Regions from separate parts of the Homo sapiens genome. Here region 2 is linked to region 1. The links come from fine-mapping of genetic effects on gene expression. A gene starts in region 1. The other region holds a variant in brackets. All regions are shown on one strand. Distances are from middle to middle.

Region 1 (5,381 bases):
GTTGTCTTTAAAGAAGTATCTTGAGGGTAACTTTTAGCCAACTTGATTCAACTGAAGTCAGTAAATCTCAGATGGATAATCACCACGTGCTGGTGTAGGGAGAATTTACGGTCCTTATCTTCAAAGGCCTTGTGAAGGCCTCATCACTTCACACTGGGATTATAATACGTAATCACTTTTCATTCATCTATTCATTGATTTATCAAGCATGAGTTGTGCCCTTGAGGAATTCTATTCCAGAAAGAGAGACAGCTTTGTTAAAAAAAAAAAAAAAAAGAAAAAAGAAAGAAAGAAAAGAAAAGAAAAAACAAAACTATCGATCACATGGTAGGTAACAGTATCAGAGAATTCTGTATAAAATGCTGTGAGGGTGGTAGATCATAACCCAAGATGAAAAGGTTTATCATCCTTTTCATCTTGGGTTATGATCAGGGTTGCATATAAAATCCTTTGAGTCTTCCTGAAGTTACTTTCTTAACTATAGCGTGGTTAGGCAAACTTGGCACATCCCTACAATGAGCTACACACATCAGACCACAAAGGATGGAGCCCATATAAATATATGAAAAGCAGATCTTCCCTAGTGGGCCTAAAATGAACCTTCACAGATATGTATCAGAAGGGGATTCATAGCCATGCTCTGTGAGATAGCAGAAACGATAACAACTTTGAAATCAGATGGAAAATTGGACTTAAAAATGCTTCTCATTTAGTTGTGTAATCTTGGACACAGTACTTGCTAGCTCAGAGCCTCTCCAGCTCACAGGATTGCTGTGAAGCAAGCCCCCAGCAGAGGCTGATATCCAGCGTGTGCTCCATAAATGTCGTATAACAATAGCTGCCTTGATCTGCTAGCTTTGGGGTAAATTTTACATATGTCATTTAATCAAGAAAACAACCTTCTAAGTATAATTGTTCATATTTTGCAGATGAAAAGACTGAGGGTAAGAGAAATCACGTAGCTATTAAGTGGTTTAGCTGAAATTCACCCCATTTTTATCCTCTTCCAAAGTTAGTGCTCTTAAGAATTACATAAATAATTATATATTAAGTTCATTGTATTCTCCCTATAGGCTGCTTAAGAATACAATAATATAAGATAAAAATATGTGTACATGAACTTATATTTATCAGTAAGTACTGGGGTATAAAATTGTCTTTCCCTCTTTAAGCCCTAATGTTCATTGACGCGTTAACAATGAGTCACGATTTTATTTCTTGACAGTAGATGGCGCTGGTGATTGTCAAAAGAGACAGAGTCTCCCACACCCCTCTCCTTTCCTGAGCCATTGAAAAACAAAACAAAGAGCTGGTGGAAAAAAAACGCAAAAATTTTCATCGTAATGAAGGATTGAAATTAAAAATTTGGAACCGTCATGTGATTAAGCAGAACGTGTATATGATCCACACACTTTTATTTGGAACTCTAGGGAAAACCTCCTGAGCTATTTGTAAAATTTCATTCTCAGGATTAAAACAAAATATAGTAAAATTTGATTATCCAGACAAAAGATGGATTTATATTTCTCTATTAGACAGATTTTATTTCTGCACCTTAATTTTAGCAAGGGATGAATATTAAGACAACTATGAATTTAGTTGACAAAAAACTCACATATATCTGACTTCCAGAGTCCTGAAGGTGGTATAGAGGAGTATGGTAGTCAAGATAAAAACAAAACAAATTATTATATGACCTTTGAGTATATCACTTAATGTCTCAGGACAGAAGTTTTCTCATTTGTAAAACTGAAATATTTCTTGCCTAATTCACATGGCAGTTGCAAGGATCAAATACAGTAAAGTAGTATAAACACCTTGAGAATTGTCATGTTCTTTCCAAATATGCTTTTTTTCATCTTTACCATACAATCAACCCAACCACCTATAGGTAAAATCATAACACAAGGAAAATTGGAATTCAGAATAAAATACTTGAGCATTAAATTTCCTCATTGGTCCAAAAGCACTTTAATAGGCTTTGGTGAATTAGATTCGTGCAAGAAAAGGGACTAATGTATTTTCAACCATCAAAGGAGTGTTTAGCTTAATAATCAGCTACCCAGAAAATGAAACAGAAAAACACTTGAATCCAAAGCACCGAAGTGAACTGAAGCGGCCTCCACTGTCCTCCCCTAACTGTCCGCACGGCCTGTCCTCTGTAGGAGTGTCCTTGTGTACGTGTGGAGGTTGTGGACACACATGCCTAGGGTTACAGATGCTCTACAGACTTAACTCAGTATAGTGAAGCTGCAGAGATAGTCATAGCCCTAAAGAAGCCTATCTGAGAGCTTTCCTTTGGGTTTTACAAGAGGCATAGATATTTATTCTGCTCTTCTTTTAACAAAAGACTCCCAAATATTTGCTGAAGATGTAGAGTATTGCCATTTCTGCTTCAAAAGCTCTGAGCCTCTCACGGCACCTGTTGCTGCTGCCCCAAGAGCGGAACACACCCTCCACACCAGCAGCCCCAGGACTAGATTCAGCTTCTCAGTGAACCACTTCCATGCTCCACGATGTGCTCTGGGCTTTGGGGACTTAAAACATCGCAGCCGCGGCATAACAGAGATGCGTCAGCTTCTAAAGTCGTAGTGGGCAGTTCTAGAAACCTGACCCTTTCTTCTGCTGCTACAGATTCTATTGGCTTCTGGAGATTCAGAGACGTCCTTCCTCAAGAAGGAACCTCTGCCTGGCCTTCAGCAGGGCCACTGTCATGTGCGATATTCACTTAGAGCCTTATCACATTTGTGGCTGTAGAGGTGTTTGCGTGCCTTGTTTAATTTATCCCACTAGACTGTAAGTTCAGGGCAGATGGGGGATGTCTGGTTTTTGTTTTTTTTTTTTTTGCCTAATACTGTGTCCCCATGCTGGGCACAGACCTAGCACAGAGTAGGTGCTTGGCAAAGAGCTTTTGAATGAATGAATGATTGGCTGTAGTCTTCCTGGGAAAGGGCTGGCAGGCAAGGAAGTGTTAAACCAGCCACTAACCGCCCAGGCTGACCAGCCTTCTCCCTATCTCCCAGGCCTTTCGAACGGAGCCCGGGGAGGACAGGCTGGCAGAGGAGGGAGGAGGGTTTCTAGCTGAGAGAGACTGCGGCTGTGGGCCTGCAGCCTACCCCTCTTCAAGCTCTCCGGAGCCGTTCCTGCGAAACCAGCCCCCACAAGTGAGTGTCTGCGGCCCCCTCCCTCCTCTTTCCCTTATTGCTCCCTGTGGGGATGGGGCTGACACCGAGCTTGATCCTAAGTAAAAGTCTGTTCTAACAGGAAGCAAATAATGTTCCTCCCCTGACGGAGGTGTTTCCTTCTCAAAGAAGTTACAAAGGGCTCTTTTCAGAGAGAAAGGGGCTGGGAATAGTGTGTGGCCTCACTGCCGTCTGCCTTGGGTGGAGCCAGCACGTTCTGGAATCCAGGGGCTTCCTCTTCTAAAGAGGCGCCGGGCCATGCACTGAAACGGGGTGGCCCATCCTCTGGGAGCCCCAGTCCCCTTACCTGCTTGATACAAGCATCCTCTGGAAGTGCCTAGGGTCATTGCCAAGGCCCCTGTTTTCTTTTCTTGGCTTCCAGGACGCCGTAGTCTGTGTTCTTCCTCCCGCCCTGCAGTTCCCTAGCTGGATTCTCTTCCTCGCTGTGATCTCTTCATCCCTGGTTCCCCAGCGCTCTGTCCTGAGCCCCCTTCTCGAACCACACTCTCGTCTGAGTGAGCATATTGAGCTTCATGGCTGTACATTTCCTCCCCGTGCCGAGGAATCCCACACACTTAGTTCCAGCGCCCAGCTCGCCCCCACCTCATCCAGGTCCTTACATCCCCCTGCAGACTCTGTCTCCACTCCACCTCATTGGTGTTTCCCACTCACTAGATCTAAAGCCAAACTCTTGATCCTGACTTCTCCACCCACCAGCTTGCCTTTCTCTTCATCTTCCCCATCTCAGAGAGCGGCTCGGTCCCGAACTGTCTCTTTCCTTCACACCCTTCATCTAACACACAGCAAGGCTTCTCAGCTCTACCTTCAAAATCTACTCCTCATCTTTCTTCTTCCCACCACCGCCACTCAAACGCCCTCGGCCTAGAGGGATCAGACCCATACTACCTGGCTCCTGAACCTCTGCAAGAGTCTCTGATCTTTCTGCTTCCACTCCTGTCTTGCTACAGACTATTCTTCTGACAGCAGCCGGGGTGATCTTTTCAACTACCAGACCGTGTCACCTTGCTTAAAACCAGCTGGGGCTTCCCTCACACGCAGCATGACACTCAAACTCCACACGACAATCTAACCAGCCTCACCAACTGTGGCCCTGGCTTGTCCTTCTGACTTAGCTTCTGTCTCAGCTCAGGCTACACTGGCCTTCTTGGTATTCCTCAGCCCCCCAGCTTGTCACTGCCCAGCCTTTGCACTGTGTCCTCTCTCTGGAGTTCTTTCCCTCAGGTCTTCAGGTGGCCTTGCTCTCGGGCTTTCTGGAGAGACTTAAAAGCCATATCCATGGAGAGGCTGAGTTTGGCCACCTACCTAAGGTAGCCTCTCATCACTCTCCATGCCTTCGTCTGGCTTTCCTTTTGATTGAGCACTTGTTACTACTTGTGTTCAGCTCTTAGATGAGGGCACAAGGAACTCTGGCGGGTTTAAGTAGAAGAAGGATTTATGTGTAGACTTTGACAGCTCCAGGAATGTTTGGGAAGGCTTAGTGGTTTATAGCCAAGAAGAGTGCACGCATTGCACGAATTGGTGGGATCTCTGCTGCCCCAGCTGCCACTGGTTATGTCACCAATGCTACCGTCCCAGATACTAACACTGCTGGAACCCGCTGTCACCAGCACCCTTGGAATCCCCATCTTTCTGCAGCTGCTGCCATCTCCTATGAGGGCTTTCTCAGTCTCTTTGTCCTTGAGTCATTGGTTCCTAACTCAAATTGTGGGCCAGTGTGTCTGGCTGGTGGAGCCTTGGCCACAGGCCTTGGCTCCTTCTACAAGAGAGGCTGATAAAACCACTATCAGGCATTTTCAAATTCTATGTAATGGACCATGGGCTCTGCTTATCCACCAGATTCCATGAGGTAGGGAATCTCAAACATAGGATGGAGGTTCAGATTCTGGGTAACCAAAAAACAACGATAAGCATGCCCTTGACTAGCTGGCTTTCTAGTATATATTTACGTGTTTATGTGTCTATTGCCTAGCTACTACATTAGAATGAAAGCTAGATGAGGTCAGGCACTTTGTCTTTTTCCCTCTGTATTCCGAGAGTTCAGAACAGTGGCTGCACAGAAGTGACCCTTGATAACTACTGAATGAATATCAGATACTGTATTGAAGGTGTCAGCAATTAGAAAGATTAAACAGTCTCATTGTTGCTACCATTCCTTCTTTAGGTGGCTGATGCTCCTGT
Region 2 (5,381 bases), 44 kb after region 1:
GTATTCTGTTATAGCAACACAAAACAAAGACAGATAGTGCCCTTTTTTCTGCCATCAAAACAGAAGATGAGGGTAGGAGTTATCAAGAGACTCTCTCCAAATCTGAAGGAAATCACAAACCTGCAGTGCTGTTTCGAAAGTGTCCGTCAAGACCCTGGGTTTACTCTAGCTCTGAATTCCATTTCCACTGTGTGTGTCTGGGGCTTCACAGGGATAGAGAGGGTGATGGTGATGATGGTGTGGTCGCTTTCTCTTTAATCCACAGCTGTTGAAGTTTTGACCACATTAGGGCCAAATGTGGAAATTAACCTAATTTTTTTTTTTTTTTTTGAGACAGAGTCTTGCTTTGTCACCCAGGCTGGAGTGCACTGGCACGATCTTGGCTCACTGCAATCTCCGCCTCCCGGGTTCAAGCAATTCTGGTGCCTCAGCCTCCCGAGTAGCTGGGATTACAGGCACGCGCCACCATGCCCAGCTAATTTTCGTATTTTTAGTAGAGATGGGGTTTCGCCATGTTGACCAGGCTGGTCTCAAACTCCTGACCTCAGATGATCCGCCTGCCTCGGCCTCCCAAAGTGCTGGGATTACAGGCGTGAGCCACTGTGCCTGGTGACCTTCTTTTTAAATATACTTCACCTAGAAATCCATTTTGTGAGACGAAACATGAAAGTGATCATACTCCCTGCCAGTCTGAGGTGACCAGGGTGTGACTTGACTTATGGTTTCTAAACTTTTTATTCCCAAAGGAAATATTACAGGGAGGGCCAATACATACAACAGGGAAAGGCTGACGGCTCTAGGGGAAACTGAAAGCTGACAGGAGCCCCGCCCTCCACTCTTGCTCTTCCTGCCCCTCCCACACATCCTGGGAGCATCCGTTCAGAACCCCACGGGCTCCACAGAGTGTAGTTGGAAATCACCGCATACATAGAAAATATGAGCAAGAAAACCACACATGAAGAATTATTACTAAGGGCTGCCATAAGCATCATGCTTGTCTTTTGGGGAATTATGATTCATTGACCAAATAAGAACTTACCGCCATTTCTTCTAGCGTGTTTTATCCCAGCAACACTGTGTGCACAGAATAGCTTGACTCCATTTCCACAGTGGCCATTTTAAATTTTAATAAATGCTGTCCCTTTGCTTTGGTTCTCCCTAAATATTCGAATTAGATTCATTTTTATGGTCCCAGAAACGTGCTAGATTTAACAGGAGTCATTAAAATGTCTAAAAACATATATTTCAGGGAACTCCCAACATAGACAGTATGAAGAAACACACACACACACACACACACATATATAGTTCACTTATATAAAGTGAAATGGGTAACAATTCATGACAAGTGAAGTGATATTATAGGACAATGTATGATTAAAAACCAAGCCTGTTGCTCAGAAAATAATTGCTCTAGGAATTCAGTACTAAGATTGTCTTGTATCACAGTGGCATCCTAATTATGGTATACAGAAAAATGAAGGAGGTTGAATTCTGCTCTCCTGGGCCCTGGTCATGTCTCACCTGGAATGTTGACTTAGCTCTGAGCACCTCACTTTAAGAAAAACGTGGTCAAAGCACAATGGGCTCTGATGTGAGATCATGTCCTATGAAGAAGTGTTGGTAGAGTTGTAGCTGCTTTGTTTGGGGAAGGTAGTACACTGGTGCGATCCTTACTTCACCAGGGATTTTCATGGAAAAGAGTATGTCCAGCCTCTCTACAACCCTTCCCTTCTTCCCTTCTATCCTCCCTATTTACCTCTCCAGTGGGGTGGACACCAGGGGGTGCCATTGACACAGATTACAGTGTGAACTGTGTCCCTTTGAGCTGTGCAAAACAGTGGCCCAGTCAATGCCTTTACAAAAAGGGATTTGAGTTTTTCCATGCGGTTTCAAAAAGTAGGTACAAATTAAAAGGCCAGAAAACAAGGGTAGTGAGATTTTGGCTTAAGATAAGGACATTCTAACAGTGGGAGAAGATAGAATGAATGGCTCTAGATGTACGTGTTTGGAAAGGAGTCTTATTTAGAAGGAAGTCTGTGCCTCTAAAATTGATAGTAATGATAGTAACCAGTGAATTGCATCTTTGTGACACGAGTGGCCTTGTAGTATTTTATGTTTTTCACAAGTGGTCTCCTTCTTCATAACTACACCAATACTTCTAGGTAGGAATTATAATTATCTTTATTTTATAGATGAAGAAACTGAAGTTTGGACAAATTGCATTACTTTCCTAAGGTCACAAAGAGAACAAATTTGTAATTTCAGAATTAGTTTCTCTAATTTCAGAATGCAAACTCTTAACCATTATGCCACATTGCCTTTCAACAATGAGTTACAAAATCCCATCTTTCTTAGCATGTTCAAATGCTCAATTATTGTGAAACTTGATCTACAAATAAAATTAGAGCTTGACCTTGTACCTCAAGGGGTAAAATCATTTCTGTGGAACAAGGGTAGGTGAGATGGATTTGTCTTGCTCTCACTACTCACTGATACCGATGTCTGGGACTCAGGGGTGAACCTGCACACCTGGGCTCCAGATGGGGAAAGCTGTTCTACACATAGCATATGCCTCCAGATCCAATTCTATCATCTCATGCACCCAATGCATGAACGATGTGCAAAGGCTCATGCTGGATATTTTGATTTTGTCATTTCCCAAATTCCCTCTCCAAAAATCACCTTAAGGAGGCAACATGTGGTCTTACATGATACTTCAGAGCTGCTGGTGGGAGCAGAAAGGAGCAGAGCCCATTGGAGAACACGCGGTGCTCACTGTCATGTTGGAAACACTGAGATAAAAAGGAGAGGCAAAGCCTTTAACTGTGTGTGCATCCGACAGCTGCAGCTTTCTTATTGCTTGTGCTATGTCTGTGAAGTGAAGACCATGGTGAGACCCTCACTGAGGCTCTGTTAGTGTTAAAACAGATGTTCCTTCAACACTCACATCTTAGGTGGCCACTTTCACGGGGTGGAAAAGGATAATCTAAACCTTCCTGTTCTTGCCAAAATAACCATGTGTAGGTCTTTGTTCTGCACATCTCTGGAACACACAAATAGATTTCCAAGCAGTAGGAACCTCCTGTCCTGTTCAGTTGTTGGACAAACTCTTGTTCTGCCCATTCCACCCTAGTTTCCTGAAATCCTGGCTGTAGGGCTCCCATGACTGGAGCCTGTGAGAGCCTCCTTTGTCAGGAGAGTTTTCACAGCTAAAGCCATCAAGGCTGGCAGTGAAGGACACTGGGCTTCAAGCCCA[C/T]TACAGTGATGACAGGTATTGCCTTGGCTGCCCAAGCTGAGTGGTCGCCCCTCTGCAGGTCTGTCTGACTCCATCCCAGGGAAGAAGGCGGTGGAAGGTACCCATGGGCTGCAGTTGGCTCTGCCTGGCCGTGGGGGAGGATGGCAGAGGACTGACCTCTTGCTGCCTCAAAAGGGTGGAAGTTGTTTTGCCCTTTAAACTGATAAAGAAACAAGCTGGAACAGTAAAACTAATCCTCCGAAGCAATCCAAGCATGGAAACCAGAAATGTCTACTCAAATCTTTTCTCCATTTTCTTTCTTCATAAATTCGGAACATTTGTGGCAGAAAGAGAAATCAGAAAAAAAATGGATTTAGAAAAGAGAGAGAAGTAGTTTAGAGGGTTGTATAGGGAGGCAACATGATAAAGTTGGAAGAAAAATGGACTTGGAGAGAGAACAGTCAAATCTGGGCCTGCCTCTGAGTGCCTGTGTGGCCCTCGGCAAGTTTCCCTTCAACTTGAAGACCTGGGTCTCTATGATCCCTTTCAGTTGCAAGATTAAGACCTAAGAGTTCTTGCTTATATAAACAGAATTCTTCCAAGGCCATAATTATTTCCATAATCAAGAACTATTTATTAACTAAGCACCAGTGTGTGATTTTCTCAAGATAAGAGCAAGAAGAAATGGTCCTTACAGGCTAGATAGCTGTGACATGGACCAACAACTAAGCATATCTAAAAATTCGACTAATTCATAATATGAATTCAAAATATGAATTGAATAAGCAAAAATATATATACCATGGGAGTTGAATGTTTTGACGGGGAAAATCCAGACGCTGACTTTAGGATGGTACTTTCTGTTTTGATTGATCCTGAGCCACACTGGACTCTCTGGCATGGGCATAACCCGAGCATCTGCATGGCAGAGTTCTGGCTCATTGCCATTTGCAACAGACACGAAGGGTGGCATCAAACAAAAGGAAACTTCTCCGTTGACCATCATAAATGATGAAGACCAAGGCTTCAACTCACTTACTGGAGTGGATTTCCTTTTACGGATGGCCTTGGTCACCCTGGGGAGACTAAGAATGTTTAAGTAACTTAACAAACACTCAGTAAGGAATGGGATCAGGATTCTTCTCCAGGGCTAACAGTTTTAACTGCCATTCTACATTTCCTGCCTGAGACAGCTGCCAACCTGGGCTTCTGTGACTGCCACTCCATGCTTCTCAAGCCAGGGTGCACGTTAGACTCATCTGGAGAGCTTGGTAAAGCCATCCATGTCCAGGCTCACCCACAGAGTCCTCAGTTTTCTCAGTTTGAGGAGGGGCCTGGGTACCAATACTTTTTAAAAGCTCCCTCTGGGTGATTCTAAGTACAATCAGGGTGTCAATCACTGATGTCCATAATGAAAAGTGTCAGACTCCAAAGCAAACTCAGGAGGACTGCCTTCATGGTATGGATCCCTGGCAGATTTGAACCTTAGAGGATTAGGCTAGCAGCTTGTGGAAGCGGATGCAAATCTTCCAATCCTCTAAGGGCAGATGAGCCTCTGGACTCATGAGAACGCTGGTCTTGGTAAAAATCCCCTGCATACCACAGGCCTCCCTTGGAGAAATCACCTAAAGAAACACCAGGAAGAATTCATTCTGGCCTCAAATAGTTACATGGATGTTTGTTACAAGAAGACACATTTAACCATTGAAGTTCCTACTCATTGAGTGAACCGTGTCTCCCTCCTCTCTGGTTTCCAGAAACAAGGATTTTTTTCTAAACTCCTCTTACTTCTTGCCTCATGGCTAATGCCCACGGAGGTGGGGTGAGTGACCTGCTGGTAACCAAGGGAAATGAATCTGCACAGGAAGCCCAGGCCCTCCCTCCCTCCCTTCTCATTAGAAGCCAGCTTCCCCTGGAAAACAACCACATTCTGCTCTACTTTCTCATGTCTATGTGGCCCTCCCTGAGTGGGAAGGCTTAAGTTTTGTAAGATTCATCATAAGTGTGGTGATATTTCCTAATTCCAGGGAATGGAGCTAGTCATGCCACACATCTTTGCTGTTTTCACGAACTGAGGTAATTTTTATTTTTATTTTTATTTTTTTGAGGAACAGTCTTACTCTGTCACCCAGGCTGCAGTGTA

What was found. PIP is the estimated chance that this variant, and not a neighbour inherited with it, causes the effect.
Region 2: its variant is fine-mapped to the expression of PIRAT1 in whole blood (INTERVAL, PIP above 0.99).

The regions. Positions count from the first base shown.
Region 1 is chr2:37,873,526-37,878,906 of GRCh38, reverse strand. It overlaps PIRAT1 (PU.1 (SPI1) induced regulator of S100A8 and S100A9 alarmin transcription 1), which reads left to right and starts at 3,044. Exons shown (of 4, transcript NR_110012.1): 1 at 3,044-3,164.
Region 2 is chr2:37,829,181-37,834,561 of GRCh38, reverse strand. The region is part of intron 2 of PIRAT1 (PU.1 (SPI1) induced regulator of S100A8 and S100A9 alarmin transcription 1); the gene reads left to right. Among named protein-coding and RNA genes, the nearest start is that of PIRAT1, 44 kb to the left of the region's middle. RefSeq lists an enhancer at 1,016-1,075. The variant C/T (reference allele first, on the strand shown) is at 3,260.